Regions from separate parts of the Homo sapiens genome. Here region 1 is linked to region 2. A link means that fine-mapping ties the variant in region 2 to the expression of a gene that starts in the linked region. Tissue or cell type: whole blood. Region 2 holds a variant in brackets; the other region holds the start of a gene. All regions are shown on one strand. Distances are between the middles of the regions.

Region 1 (8,104 bases), 490 kb after region 2:
ATGGACACAACGGTGGACTGGGGTGGGACACAGGCCCGGCTGAGGAGCTGGGGGAGGCAGGCGGGTCCTGAGTGTCTGTGCATGCAGTTCCTCAGTGTGCAGAGCCACAGCAGCAGGCCCTGCCTGGCACATACAAGCTGTGGGCCCACATACCCTGCAACTCTCTCCTTGGGTTGGCCTCAGTTGCCTGTGGGGTCTGGCAGTTTGTAACTACAGCCTGGCTGCGCCCTCAGTGTCTGGGTGCCCTATGGCGGCTTATCTCCCCCGAGCCTCTGGTGTTTCATCCGAAAGTCTCTACAAAAAATACAAAAATTAGCTGGGTGTGGTGGCGTATGCCGGTAGTCCTAGCTACTTGGGAGGTTGAGGCAGAGAATCTCTTCAACGCAGGAGGTGGAGGAGGTGGAGGGTGCAATGACCTGAGATCACACCACTGCACTCCAGCCAGAGTGACAGAGCACGAGACTCTGTCTCAAAAAAAAAAAAAAAAAGAAAAGAAAGAAAAAGAAAAGAAAATGCCTATCATAGCAGGTGTGCAGGGGAGACCCAGGAAAGCCCCTTACCAGGGCTCGGCATCTAAGTTTGTTGTTATTTTATCAAAAGCGAAAAACAACAGCTGTCTGGAGGGTGACTCCTGAAATTACCAGCATCCTCAGGCCAGGTTTGCTCCAATAAATTTCGCTAACAAAAGCCACCTCCCAAGCCTCTGCCACTGGGAGCAGGTCCAGGCCCTTCTGCTGTTGCTCTTCGGGTGACTCTGGGGAAGTGGCTGTTATCATTCCCACTCACAGATGGGAAAACTGAGGTGCTGAGGTATTTCCTCTCTCTCCCAAAGCTGGTGAACATTGGAGGGCAGTCAAACCCAGGGCTGACTCCACAGCACGGATGTTGCTCTGGCCTCTGCTCTGCCCCTCACTCGTCATGTGATGAGGACATGTCCTTTCACTTCTGGGGCACGTTTCCTCACGGGGGTGGGGTGCTGACAGGAAATGGACAAAAGCATCAACCGACACTTCCCCGAAAAGTAATACAACCTCTTATGGAAGTAAGAAAACATGCTCAGTCTCACTTAATTACAGAGGCTCATTCCAAAGTGACAGCGTTTGTTTTGTTGTTTTACCTCTCAGTTTGGCCAAGATAAAAAATGCAGTGTGAGTGAGGACGCAGGGAAATAGTGACTTTCATAGGCTATTTGTGAGCATGAGAAACCGGTGTGACCTTTAGGAGGGTAGTTTCTTAAGATCTACTAACATTTTAAATGAATACACACTTTGTCCCAGAAATCAAATGCTGAGGTGGGAGAATTTATCCTAACAGTTTACAGACACATGCATGTAAAATCCTCCTTACTCATTGTCACAGGACTGCTGTGTGTGGTTTAAAAAAATTAAATGAAGTCTGCATACAGCCTAAATGCCCATCAGCAGAGGAACTGATTAAAGAAAATAACAAGGTATAACCTTTAAGAGATATTCTGATGGAAAAAAAACAAGATGAAGTAAAATATATAAAATGCATTTTTATTATGTAAAATAAGAAATATTTGTATCAGCAAATTTACTTCTAGAAGGATTATCCTCAATAAATAAAGTAATTGCCATTGAGGTAGGGAGAAGGTGTCTTTCTCCTATTTTTAACTCTTCATTCACTGTTAACTTTACTGTTTGTTTGGTTTTGTATTTAGAGCGTGCTTGTTGGCCCACTGGGTATGCTCAGTTACTGGAAGATGTTTTGGCTGTGGCCTCAGACAGGCACTTGAGGCATAGATGTACATACAGGTCTGCCACCTGAAGAGGCAAACTGACTTGACTTGGCCCAACCTCTCACCTCTGTTGAGGGGACCTCTTCCTACTCACTGCAGATGGGTTCACTTGTTCCCACCACAAGCGCAGAATGCCTTGTACTTCACAACCCTTTGCTCCCCAGGGAGCTCTGCAAGTCCCCAGAAATACTTGCCCAACCACGGGCACCCTTGGAAGGGTCCAGCTGCTGACCACCAGCATCATGTGACTCCCAGTGCCAGTGACATCTGGAGGAATTGAGCAATGGCTGAGGTGGAATTTCATTTGGCACTTAATGCAATCCTCTGCTTCTGCCAGAGGCGGTGAATTCTATATAAAGCTGCCAAACCTGGCCGTCTTCTCACTGAGCCTTGACCCCTTCCATCCAAGGGCAAGGCAATGGATTGCTGTGCATGACTCACGCGCAGTAACTGTGGCATTGGGGCCTAGCCCAGCTGAGCTGAGCAGAGCAGGCCGGCCTGGCGGAAGTGGGTCCTCTCCGCTCTAACCTCTGGCTCTGATGAGCAGCTACATAAACTGAGACAGGATATAGACACATCCTGCCTGAGTTAGCAGCAAGAAATAGCCGCCCCCCACCCCCCCTGCAGTTCTCGCACAGCAGGGATCCTGCCATAAATCAATCCGAAGTCTAATGTGGAATGGCTTGCAAGCAAGGGCTGCACCGCTGTTTGTCTCCCAAGGCAAGTGTTGAAGGTCTGAAACCTGAGTCCTGGAGAACTGCTTGGGCTGCTGGGCTGGGCTGGGCACGGGGGCGGGGGTCAGGCAAGCCCATCCTCTTCAGACATGAGAATGCCTCTCAGCCTCACCTCCTCAGTGACTGAATTGGAATAATGACAGTGGCTCCTGTCCCTTTAACCCAGGACCTGCCGTATACACACACATAAACATATGCTCAAGTTACGTGCTCCGGGAACCACAGTCTCATGTGCAATTATATAAACATGCCCAGCACGGATCCAGCACTTAGGATGTGTCAGACTCCGTGCCGGGACATTTATACGCACTTCGTGCTGCTGGATGAGTTATCTCCTGTTATTATTCCTACTTTCCTACTTTGCAGATGAGGAAACTGGAGCTAAGAGAGGCTGCCTTGTTTATAGGCAGTGCAGATGATCCCAGTGCAGACTGAGGGGCCTCGCTCCCAAGCACCACTGATGCCTGCGCACTCCCAGGCTGACGCAAGCACAACCACAGGCACATGGAGTGCCGTGTACACACGTAGACCGAAGCAGCACTCCTCCACGCCAAGCTCCAAGCTCAGGCGGGGTGAGGGGTGAGGCCTCACAACCCCCTGGATTTCAAAGACTTATAAAAGAGTTGGTGTCTCCAATACCCATATCATTATCATATCAATAAGGTATCATTGTCACATGATAGGCTCAGGGTATCTCCTCTCTGACAGACTCTAAGAATCAGACCGCGGCAGGGTGGGGGTAAGAGGGATGTACATTACGTTTTTTGGTAAAATCAAATGGTAGTTTTTATTGCAAAAGTCCAACGGCAGAGGAAGAGGGCAGAGAGAGGCCCAGCAATGTTTCCAAGCATCTACAAAGACTTTCATCACAGATGATTTCCTCTCAGCAAGAAAACGTGATGGTTTAAAAGAGAAAACCAGCAGCGAGGAATTACAAATCCCCAAAGGATCCAGGCCGCAGGATTCCCTCGCATCTGTGTGCCTTTGCGGCGCCCAGCGGAGCGAGCAAGTCCCTGGGCAAGGCTGGAGTTGCCTGGAGTTCACCGGAGCCTGGCCGGTCGGACCCTGGCTGGGGAGCAGCACAGAAGCAACTTGTGATGTGAACTCTCACCTAACTGTTCTTTAGGGAGACAATTCTGGCCCCACACATTTCACATGCCCCGCACAAAGAAACAGAAAGCGGGCGACACGCCCTGGGAGGGCGGGCTGGCGGCTTCTCCAGCTCGGAGCGCGTGGAGGCTGCGCGTAGGGGTCCGGGACGCGGGACAGGGACTCCGCGCAGCCCAGGCGCCGGGGAACCGGGGCTGGAGTCGGGGATCTGAGCCCAGCGGACGCCTCCTCCGCCTGGAGGCCCGGCACGGACCGGGACACCAGGGCGTCCGTGGCCGTGGCTCGGCCCCTGGCTGCTGCGGGCCGCGGCCTCCAGTGGGTCCCCAGGACCCTTCCCCACGGCGGGTACTCACCGAGGCTGAGAGGCCACGCCGTGCTGTTGGGGCTTCTCGTCGACCACATTCCTGGGCGTCAGCCCGGGCAGAGACCGCGGGGACTGGCCAGGCCGGGCCAGGCCGGGCCGGGGGAGGGTCGCGCTCCCGGGCTCCTGACCCTCGGCGGCGAGAGGAAGCGGCACCTGGGTCACACTCCTCCCGCGCGGGCCGAGGGGAGGGGCTCTGGCCCGGAGATAGGCAGACTTCATTTATTTTTTTTCTGCAGACTTGGCTGGTGGGGTTTCCACCCCCTTTTTTTTTTTTAAACACACACCCGCCCACTTCTGAACTCTTCTTTGCTCCAACTTTCCTGCGCAAGAACCACGCTTTTCTAACCGTTTCTCTTTCCATCTGCCACTACCGGATACAGAGGTTGTGGTTGAGAATTCCCCCTGGAGTGCAGGGAAAACTCCCCAATGTGACATGATGGCCTGGCCCAGCACTGTCGGGGATGGTGACCAAATAGGGCAGACCTGTGTTGAAATCTTGGCTGGCTGCGCGGCCGCTGGATAGCTGGGCGGCCTCTCTCAGCTGCGGGGCATTTGTCCCTGGAGAGAGTCCCTGTCTTGTTGGCCTTTGGGGGCCCTGTACTCATGGATGGGCTGTTGAGCAAAGATCATTCCAAAACAGGAAGAATTGCTGGACAAGAGTCGTGATTTGTTCCCATTGCTTTTGTCTGAAGCTGCCAGACACAGTGCAGTTTGTGAATTCGCTCTACTTTTGCCATGAAAATCTCCACGTGGATTTCGATACATACCTTTGTTGGTTAAATGCAGTCAAATGGCACCACCTACAAAAAATGTATCATAGCATTATCTGCCCCTTCTGCCCAGAGACAAGGGCAGGGAACTTGAGGCCCTTGTTTTAAATCCCCACCCAGGGGAACACCCTGTGCTTCTCCTGTGTGATGTCTGAACCTTCCTGTGCTGCTTTTCATTGTTTACTTTATAGTTCCCCAAGCACTTTTGTGACGCCCACCTCTCCCCTACCTTCTGCCATTAAGGCCTATCCTGCACAATCCGGAGAGCCAGGCCAGCTGTCTGTACAATGTATGGGCGGTGCCTTTGGGACTGTCATCTGCATTGAATACAATGAGAGGCTGCGCCCTGGAGATTTGCAACACAGAGGCTTTGCTCACCTCTAGCCGGGCTGCACAAACTCCAGGCCTTCTTGACGCAGTGGGAAAGCACTCATGATTCACTTTAGTTAGATCATGAAGAACCCCCGATGCTGATAGATCTTTACTCCAACTGCCATGTGCAGCACAGCCATGTTGAATTGAAATAAACTACTCACAGAATGCCTTTGGCCTGGTGGGGAAGCCCTGAGTCTTGATTTCCTCATCTATAAAATGGAGGCAAGAACACCTGCATTCCGGGGTTTTACAGAGGCAGTGATTGTAGAATCACAGTGGGAACAGAAAAGGCATTTAATAAACAGCAATGAGTAATGATTAATTTATTTTTATTTATTTATTTATTTATTTTTCTGAGACGGAGTTTTTGCTCTTGTTGCCCAGGCTGGAGTCCAACGGCGTGATCTCGGCTCACCACAACCTCCGCCTCCTGGGTTCAAGCAATTCTCCTGCCTCAACCTCTCGAGTAGCTGGGATTACCAGCATGTGCCTCCACGCCTGGCTAATTTTGTATTTTTAGTAGAGACGGGGTTTCTCCATGTTGGTCAGGCTGGTCTCGAACTCCCGACCTCAGGTGATCCACCCACCTTGGCCTTCCAAAGTGCTGGGATTACAGGCGTGAGCCACTGCACCCGTGATTACTTTAACAGTTTAACTTTTTTTTTTGGTAATACATACACATACGTCTACGTGGAACAGTAGTCCCGCTCCTCTGTCCTGAGAGAAAATAACTTTAATTATCTGAAATGCAGCTGGAAAGTTGGAAAGAAGCAGAAAGTTCTGCCAGGTAACAACGGACAAGTCATTAGGTCATTGCAGCACACTTAGAGAAGTCACTTTTACAGACTCATTTAGAACCTACTGGCCTTAGACGTAATCATAAGAGATTTCCTTAATTTCTTAGGGTAAGACAGGTTGAAGGCATCAAAATGTTGCAGAGAATTCCTTACAGAAAATAAGCCAAAAATTAATAAACTAACGAACTAAACAGTGAAAATTGAAAGCCCCACAAACTGCAGAGGTCAGATACAAGAACGAAGTAGCATTTGTTACAGAACTAAAGCAATCTCAGCTCCAGCCATCACTGGAGGATGTGACAGTTCCTTGCGCTATTAAAGACCACAGGGCTTTGGAACTCAATCTGGGTTAGTTACTCTACTGCCTACTAGCTGCGTAACCTTCAGCATTTCACTTTCTTTCTCTGAGCCTCATTTTTCTCAGCCTGGAAATTGGAGCAATCTGCAAAGTTAGGCTGTTGTGAGTAATATATTCGATAATAATTAAAGAGGTAATTACAATGAGAGTACACTGGAGTTACTTAAAGATATTGGCCCCCTTCCTCCTCTAACACATACTTTGTTCATAGTAAGGACCCCAAGTCATTTGAAAAAGAAAGTAAATAGTGTGTCTTAGTGTGTAGCAAATTAGCTAACAGGGAAACATTTGACATATTTTAGAAAATTTAACTATGAAAGTGTCTAATGTTAAATAAATGACTCTTAAGAAGGGAAAATAATTATGTGAAAAATTTAATTATATGGTAACAGTCTGACATAAGTCAAGAAATGTATTATTAGTGTGTCTTCATGTGTTGGATATTTATTAATGAAGTTAAAAAAAAAACTCAGCTATATCTTGCAATAATAAACCAGTTCTTATCTTGTCTAGTTCCCATAAATACTCTTAAACGGAGTATTGCCAAGAGTCCATTGTAAAGATGAGAACCCAGAAGTTCAGCACAGTGACAAGAACTTGCTCTGCAGTGCAGCCGGGATGGACGGTTCTAGCTGTGTCTTCATTGACTGTCTGTGGCTGATACAAGCTGCAGAGCCCTCCAAGATGTGAGATGGTATGATCCAGTCCTGGAGATGAATTTTCTCTTCCTCTTCAGGGAAGAAACTGCTCATGGGAAACTGCCTTCCAAATCCTCAGTGCTAGTTCCTTATTGGGAGTGGAGTTGGCGGTCCCCTGCTGCTGTTGCTGTCTCCTGGGTGAGCCCTTACAGATGGTGGTAGGTAGATGTTGCTTGGGCCTTTAATGAAAGGTTTTGCCCCTCATCACAGTAACACATGCTCTTTGTGCAAAAAGAAAAAATAAAAAAGAAAAAGCCAAAAAGATACCTAAACCCTAAGAATTGCTTGCAATCTCCAGCACATTAAGGTTATTTACCTTTAGTCTTTTTTATGCATTTACGAATATTTGCTTTATACTCTTGAGATTTTACTGAATACGTGATTTCAAGTGCTGAGCTTTTACTACTAAACATTATGTCATGAGCATTTTCTCATGTAAAAGTAGAAAAGCTCTTTAACTCATTTTAATTACTAGGTTGTTTCATTTTCTTTGCTGGTTGAATAGTGCTGTGATAACCATATGAACATAAATATCTGGATTTCATAATTTTTTCCTTAGGGTATATTCTGACAAGCAGAATTACTCAATCAAAGGTTACAAATGCATTTAAAGCTTTTGATACATTCATAAGTTCTGGCTGTGACCTTTACTTTCTTCCCAATCAAGAGTACCAGTGTTTATCTCAGAGTCTCTTGCCAGAATTAAACAGCAAACTTAAAATCATAGTTAATTCCATAGAAAAGAAACATACATAGTTATTTGTGTCAGCATTTTCTTTGATTACCAGAGAGGCCGAATATGCTGTCAGTTGCTTATTTACAAATCACAGCTTCTTTTAGGTGAATATTTTGTTCACACTGTTTCCTCATTTGGAGGTGTGATGGTTAATACTGAGTGTCAACTTGATTGGATTGAAGGATACAAAGTATTAATCCTGGGTATGTCTATGAGAGTGTTGCCAAAAGAGATTAACATTTGGGTCAGTGGGCTGGGGAAGGCAGATCCACCCTTAATCTAGTGGGCACCATCTAACCAGCTTCCAGGGAATATAGAGCAGGCAGAAAAACATGAAAAGGAGGGATGGGTCTGGCCTCCCAGCCTACATCTTTCACCCGTGCTGGATGCTTTCTGCCCTGGA
Region 2 (8,104 bases):
GATGGAGCGATTGGGAGGGGTATTGGGGATGGAGCAATTGGAGGTGGTTTCTTTTTGGAGTAATGAAAATGTTATAAAATTGATTGTGGTGGTGGTTGCACAATTGTGTGAATACACTAAAAGCCATTGAATTGTACACTTTAAATGGATGAATTGTATGGTATGAGAATGATGTCTTAAGCTGTTAAACAATACATGTGAATATCTTTAGGAGAAAACTTGAAACTCCAGGAAACTCTGACCCTGTGGATGGCCCTGTCAATCTGCATGTCCCATGCTGGGACAGAGGTGAGTCCAGAAGTCTAGGCAAAGTTATCAAGATGAGGGTAAACTTTCTACTGCTATGCAGCCCTTGGGGGCCGGGGTCCCCCGAGCTGTCAGGATGCCTCAGCCCAGACCCTTGGAATTAAAGAGGCCTGTTGGCTGGACGCACTTCCAACTCCGGCACTCTCAGAAGAGGCTTCCTGGAGCCCCTCGGCTTTAATCCCCGGCTGCAGTGTGAGCCGGGCTCACTTGCTAAGCTCAGGAACTAAGCAGGCTGAGGGGCCAGCTCATCTTTCCCCCAGGACGTGCAGCCACAGGGATCCTGGGCCCTCCCTGCATGACATGCTGCTAAGAATAGCGAGAGGACAGTATGTGTGTCTCTGAAGATCTTTCTGCGAGTCAGGAAGTATTTACAGCCTTTCCTGGAATAGAGCTCCTCCATCTGCAGTACTGCTTGGGAGTGCCTTGTGGTCTCTCCCTTCAAAATCCAGCCTTAAATTCCCCTCCTCCAGGAAGCATACCTTGACTTAACCAAACCTCCCTGGTTGAATTTTTTGAATGACTAAACCTGAATTAGGCTGATGAACTGGTCAGCACCCTTTGAGAAGCAGGTTTGTTGGGCTGTGAGGAAGGGCTCTGGCCCCAGCATTTCCTCTCCAGTCTACCCATCCTCTTTTTGGACAACCTGATGTACACGTAAGTATTAGTTACAAATCTTTGGTTGCAAGTGACAGAAACCCAAGCCAAACCTGGGTAGTAGCCAGGGTGATGGAACCAGGAACTCACTGCTACCAGCACACCATCTCCCCTGTGGCCTGGATGTTGCCTTCTCTTCCATGGCACACTGGGCTTTTCCATACAGCCAAGGAGATGGCTGTAGAAGCTGGTTTGCCTCCTCTTGTATTGGACGCCTAATGGGCTTCCTCCTGGCTCCCGAGTTGAAAAATCCCTGGGAAGGGCTCTAATTGGCCCTACCTGAGTCAGGTGCTCTCCTCTGAACCAATTGCTGAGCTCAGGAGGCGGGTCAGACTACCTGGTGGAGGGGAGGCGCAAACCCTCGCAAGAGGGATGCCTGGTAGAGGAGTGCGAGTGGGGCTGGGTGCACCGGCGACGGTATTGGTGCCTGGTACTTCCCTGATTCTGTGCCGTGGGAGCTGTTCGGGATGTTAAACTCCTGGGAGATCAGGCTGAGGACGACAGTCACTACTTGTGCCTGCGCAGCATCCTCTTTGCCATAACAACGACCCCAGTTTCCTCTGGAGACCACCCTGTTGGCAGCCATGTGTTCATGGGGCCTAGGAGTGGAACACGTGGCCGGGACCATCAGCCAGCACAGTCCCTTTCCTGTGACCACAGCCCCGGCTCTCAGCAGACTGCCAGCACCTTGAGGGCAGGGTCTGCATGCCACTCAGCTCTGGGTGCGGCACAATGGTGGCTCCCAGACCTGGCCTACCTGACAAACCCCCAGGGGCCCCTGCCCAGGGCTGGTCCCAGGCATTTATATTTTTAATAAGCTCTGTAGGGAATATGAATAATTAGTTTTGGGAATGGTTGCTGCATGGTGTTTGTATACAGTAAGTGCTTTATAGTTGCTGGTGTAATGGGAAAGACTGGAGTCAGCTTCCCAGGAGTGATCATCCTGGCTGTCTTTGAGTTGCCCATGGACACAGAGCTGCCAGGACCCTCTTTGCATGTTTTGAGGTGGTCCTGTCACTCTGGGTGGGCAGACCCTGGCCCTCCTTGTTGGTGAGATGGCACTTGCTGACAGGATCAAGACCTTCCAATTCCAGGAGCTGGAAGAACCCCAGAGGGTTGGGACACTTGAGAAGACAGCCAGCTTGAAATGGGCTCACCCAATTAGTTCCAATCGGGCCACCTCAGGATGACTCAGTTAGAATGTCAGGGCCTTCTAAAATTAATCACAGCTGCCTCTGAAATCAGCACCTTGCATGAAGTCCCCAGCCCCTCTTGGCCCCACAGAGGTCTTGGGAACTTGAGGGAGCTGGTTCTGGCCCAGCACCATCTCTCAGCCCCTCAGACATTCATCTGAATTTAGATTTGCTAACAGGCAGTTTTCCTTCTGCTTTTCCTTTTTTTTTTCCTTCTAATCCTCTCCCTTCTAACTGCAAGCAAAGGCTATTTTTATGACCAGGGGTTTCATTTCTCAAAAGGAGGATGACAGGAGGTGGATATTTTAGTACAGTGTCCTAAGCTCTCATTAATGGAAGTTGGGTACAAATTTAATCCAATATATTCAGTTTTTCTTCCTCTCAAGATGGGTTTTTATTTCTTCTGAATAAAAAGGTTGACTATGAACATTGTAAATTCAGGTAATACAGGAAGTTCTACAGAAAAAAGGAATAATTGCTGGAAATCCCTTATCCAGAGAGAAACAATTGTTGGCATGTTGATGCATACTTATAAAAAACCCTCCCAGTGCTTTTCAAAAAACCCCCTAAAAGTCCATAGACTTGAAAAATAAAAATGCATAATTTGCATATATGGAAATAAATGATAATTCCAAGAAAGTCTTTGGCTTCTTTGTGACAAGAAAGTCTGTTGGAGGAAAGAAATCAGCTATTTGGAGGCTCTACATCAATGTCACTTTTAACCTTTCTCTCTGTCTGATTGTTAGATTATAAATTTAAATTTAATTCTTCTAGAAGACAGTTGGATTCATGTATATATACAAAAAGACAAACCTGCCGCGGCTGCAGCAAATACAATGGTAGGAATTTATCTTAGAGCAGAGTTTCCCAAGCTTTCTTGGTTCTTGGTGCCTTTAGTGTTTCAGAAATGTTTTCATGGCTTTTCCTAGGCCAAAAGAAGCACCTAATAGTTCCATTTAAGTAGTTAGGTCCAAACAACAATTTAGTAGTTGTTTTAAAAAAGTAATACACAGAATTTGAAAGAATTTTTTTTTTATTTCATACTTAAGTAACATCAGA[T/G]GGCAACAATGGCCAATAGGAGGCAATGGAACAATGTCTTCAGTATTCCGAGGGACAGAGATTTGCGGCTTGAAGGACTGTTCATCAGAGGGCAGTGCCTGCCTCATCTGCATGCTGCCAGCACTGCTCCAGGGCTTGGCTCAGCCAGAGTAAATGCTCAATGCATCTGTGCTGAATAAGTGAATAAATAAACAAATGGATGAATGAATGAATTTTTAGGGTTGTCACACTTTCCAGTTTTTCTTCAAAGTCCTTGAAGAAGAAGGCGTTGGTCCCTGAAGCCCCAGCCTTGAAAGTTTCCTCTGCATCAGGAGCCAGGAAGGCCCTGGGGCAGACGGCCCAGGAGAGAGCACCGGGTGGGCAGGCCCAGGAAATCAGTAGCCCTTTGCTTTCAAAGCCTGGTTTGGAAGAGAGTATGATTCAGTGGTTAAGAGGCCACAGACCTGACTCCAGAGTCTCCCTGTGTCTCAGTTAAATCATCTGCAAAACAGGAATAACACTAGTCTCTGTTCTCATAGCGAGAATGACCTGTGTGTGTCTAACAGCTTCCTGGTACACAGCGTTCCTTAAATACTAGCTTTAATATTAGTGGTTGATCTCTTAGAACAACTTTCTGCTCTCTAAAATGGAAATGACAACATTGAGCTCTCAGTAAGAATTAGAGGCAACACTTGTGGGTCGGCCTCGTCTCTCCTCCGCCCACTGTGAGATGTGAGAAGGCTGTGATGGGCCTGTCTGTGCTTTCCCTGCGGGTCCCTGTCTCTCTCTGAACTTTCTCTCCTGACCCTCCTGGTTTCCACACTAAAGAGGAACAGGAAGTGAAAGCAATAAAAGTGGGAAAAGGGCCTTTTTCTTTAAATTAGGGATGTGCTCTGATGTTCACCTCCTCTGTGAATTTTTTTTTCTTTTTGAGATGGAGTCTTACTCTGTGACCCAGGCTGGAATGATCATGGCTCACTGTAGCCTCAACCTCCTGGGCTCAAGTAATCCCACCCCAGCCTCCTGCGTAGGGCTACAGGCGGTGCCACTACACCTAGCTAATTTTATTTTTGTAGAGACAGGGTCTCACTATGTTCCCCAGGCTGATCTCAAACTCCTGGGCTCAAGCAATCCTCCCACCTCAGCCTCCCGGTGCTGGGATTACAGGCATGGGCCACCGTTTCCAGCCTGTGAATTGATCTTGATTTGGGTTCTTTGAGAGCAGCCAGCAGGCTGTGCTGTGTCTGACATGTAGAATTCCTGGATAGCAAGGCTTAGAAGCAGGAGAACTAGCTCTTGTAAGATCCTGGCTCTGGTCACTCCTGTTCATTCCAGAGCTGAGGGATCCAACTGACCCTCTGTCTCCACTACCCTTGACTGCTCACTCCTGGAAATTCACCAGTCTACATGTGCTCTGCAGAGGTGAGAGGACCTTTGGAGGAGCAGAAGGATGGTGGCTGTGGAAAGCTGGTGACCCTCAAGTCCACTTACAACGGAGATGGCTGTGTGTGTGACATCCCCTTAGTGCTAGACTCAAGCTAATCCTTTGGGGAATGTTTGAGGTGGACCAGGGGCCCTCATTTTTTTCTCTTTTATACAGGTTAGGACTCCTAGGACATCAAGTGGTAACTCATCATTATCACCATCACACAGCAGCTGGAACCAGCAGCCTCACCAGGCCTTTCTCCTTTAATAATGACAAACATGGTGTGCAGTCTGGGCCACTTAATCCTGTTCTGCAGATGGGGACTCTGAGACATAAAGAGGTAAAGATCATGCAGGTGACAAAGCTAGCTGAAGATTAGTATTATGAGATATGAGAATAGTAACTGAAGGGTTGATTTGTAAATGTGAAAAATTGGAAATCAGCCTTGATTTCCAACAATAGGGTATTGATGTGTAATACAACCACACAGTAGGGTATTGTATAGCGACTAAGAATGATACAGCAGTATTTGTTGACCTGGGAACATTTTTCACAATATGCTTTAAAAAAAGATAGATAAGTGCTTATTAATAATATAGGTACAGGGACTCAAGTCAAAGTGGGGATATATTCTAAACTCTGGCGACCAATTTCCTAAACCATGTAGTTTTTGCTATAGAAAACATCTAGCTGTGGGTCTACTTGTAATACTCAGTATATTACCTTATTTCATATGCCATTTATTTTTTCTTTATGAAAATGGTGTCATTCATCTTTATTAATGTAGTTGAAATTCATAAACTTTCTGTGTGAATCATTTAATCAAGAAAAATGTGTTACGGGGATAGATTTTATATAAATGAGAATGAAATGAAATGTTTCATTAAAATATGTAAAAGTTGCCCAGTATATCTTAAGGAGAAATCGTATGTGTATAATATTATTGTATTTTTGTAAGATAAAACAAATGTTGTAAGACCTTAAAAATATTGTTAGGAGAAAAAAATACACGTATGCATAGAAAAATGTCTAGAAGGATAAATGCTAAAATGTTCATCCTGGACCTCTGCAAGATGGGGCTATGGGTGATTTTTTACCCCTTCCTTTATTGTTCACCTGTATTTTCTAATTTTTCAATAACGTTCATGTGTTACTTATTTAGAAAAGACAGGAGATGAATGTTTAAAGTGATGGATATGGTAATTACCCTGACTTGATCATGATACAATGTATATATGCATTGAAACATCACACTGTACCCCATAAACATGTATGGCTATTATGTATTAGTTATAAATAAAATATTAATAAGAAATAAAAAGATAAGGGGGGTACTGGGCTGGGAGTAAGGAGACTGCATTCTGACAGCAACTCTGCCTCTAACTGACTGTGTGATCCTGGGCAAGTCCTTTCCTTTCTGGTTTTCGAGTCTTCATCTGTAACACGAGGGGTTGTTAGCAGACAGGAAGTTCCGCGAGAGCTGGGACCATGTCTGTTTTGTTCTGGCAGTGTCTGTAGCACAGGCTATGCTCTGTGTATACTACATTAACGAGTGTGTGCATGAGTGAATGGAATTAGCGGCTGTGATCATTGGGAGAGTTTTGGAGACATGGCCTGCTGCAGTGGTCCTCCAGTGTGTTCCAGAAGCAGAAGCCCGGGAGGTTGTAAGGCTTTTTCTGGATGCTTTGGAAAAATCACGGGGCAGAGCTTTGCATTCGACTTACCCGCATGGGACGGCAGTGGGCTTAGTGTTGAACAGAGTTGAGTTAGGGACGTAGTGCTGCTCTTTGCCGGCAGTGAAATCTTGAGAAAATTTTGTATTTTTTTCTCTAAGCTTGTCTCCTCATTTGTAAATTGAGAGTTATTACTAATACCTAGCTCATAGGGTTGCTCTGAGCACTTGAAAAATCTATTTAGAAATTAGCTAAAAATGGCAGACTGAACCCCAACCACTTTTTCCTGTCCCAAACCCTTAGAAATACCAGAAAAAATAAATACATGTCATCCAAAAATGTTCTAGGAGACGAGAAGGGGCCTCGGTGGATTTAAAGTTGCGAGGAATTATTGAAAGAAGGAAATTGGTGGGGTTGAAAGGAAGAAACCACTGCCCAAAATACGTATAGGGAGACCTGCTGTCATAGGCAGTTTTGAAGGGAATTTAAGCTTGAAGATGGTGAATGGGGTGGTGGTGACTGGTAGGTCGTGGGTTAGGATGTTGCAGTAGGAACCACAAAGCCAGCCAGCTATCTACTCCTCCCACCACACCTTTCCCACTTAGCCAAATAGCAGGCAGCAGGGATCTCTGTCTCCCTCCTGCCAGTGTGAACGCCCAGCCTAGGGAGGCAAGGTGACACTCTGGACAAACGGACCTCGGATGCAGGCACACCACGTCCACCAGCTTGTTTTCCACCCACGGTCATCTCTCCCACACCGTGGCTGGAGGCATCACCCATAGACTGGGTAACAAAGAACCTCAAACACAAGACGAGCACACACCAGAGCCGCTGAACACTGAGGAAAGCACTGCCATGACTGGGACGCAGAGCACAGGAAACAGACTGATACCCAGATAAACAGCAAGCAGAGCACACGGACGAAGCACAGTTAATCTCAGAAAGCTGTGAGAGGAAACGGTGTGAGGCCTTAGAAATAAAAAAGAAGACGCTCAAAGGTATATTCAAAAAGGGGCTTTTGGAGTATGATCAGACTGGATGTAGGTCAATAATAGCATATTAGTGAACTGGAAAATCAAATTGAGGACTTCATCTAGAATGCCCCGCAAAAAGAAGAGATAGAAAGCATAAAATAAAAGTGAGGATATATGAAGACTAGATTCAGAAATGTTAATACCTTTTAAATAGGAGCTCCAGAAAGAGGGACTAGAGAGGTTGGATGTGGGGAACGCTAAGATTAATAGAGAAGGAAATTTCTCAAGTCTACAAAAGACAAAAGTCCTCATCCTGAAGGGGCCCACTTCATGACAAGCAGAACAGAAAATGATAGACTGGCTGGGCTGAAACTTAGAACATGAAGGATGGAGAAAAGGAAAACAGATTACTCCTAAGAGAAAGCAGACTAATATTAGATTTAGCTACAACACTGCATGTTGGAAGATCTTCAGAGACCCAGGGGAAATATTTTTAGAGATCTAAGGGACACATGTTTGAATCGGCTAAAGCCATCATTCAAGTGTGAAGGTAAAATATGTAAAGACAATTTCAGACATCCACAGATGAGAAAATGAGTCACCTTCCATCCTACCTGTAGGAGGAGGTACTTCAACACAATGAAAATAAATCCAAGAGAAAGCTACAGATTCAAGAAGCAGTGGTGAGTAAAGGAATTAGAATTTGCTGCTAAGTCTAAATGGAACTGGAACTAAAAGCTCAAGTGGTATTAACATTGCAGGTGGGGAGGAGAAGGAGAGGAAGGAAGTCCAAGTGGGCTAAGGTTTGTGCTTTGCCGAGCATAATGACAAGGGGCACTA

Direction of the effects. Alleles are on the strand shown, and positions count from the first base shown. SD is a standard deviation of normalised expression in the study named.
With allele G in place of T in region 2, the expression in whole blood of the gene that starts at base 4,111 in region 1 is lower (large effect, 1.8 SD a copy in TwinsUK).

What was found. PIP is the estimated chance that this variant, and not a neighbour inherited with it, causes the effect.
Region 1: it holds the start of GYPC, and the variant in region 2 is fine-mapped to the expression of GYPC in whole blood (TwinsUK, PIP 0.95).

Annotation. Positions count from the first base shown.
Region 1 is chr2:126,652,165-126,660,268 of GRCh38, reverse strand. GYPC (glycophorin C (Gerbich blood group)) reads right to left here and starts at 4,111. Exons shown (of 4, transcript NM_002101.5): 1 at 3,957-4,111. The coding sequence starts at 4,005. RefSeq lists enhancers at 2,412-2,641, 2,832-3,081, 2,539-3,378, 4,172-4,461 and a silencer at 3,712-4,081.
Region 2 is chr2:127,139,769-127,147,872 of GRCh38, reverse strand. No RefSeq gene overlaps it. Among named protein-coding and RNA genes, the nearest start is that of BIN1, 37 kb to the right of the region's middle. The variant T/G (reference allele first, on the strand shown) is at 3,213.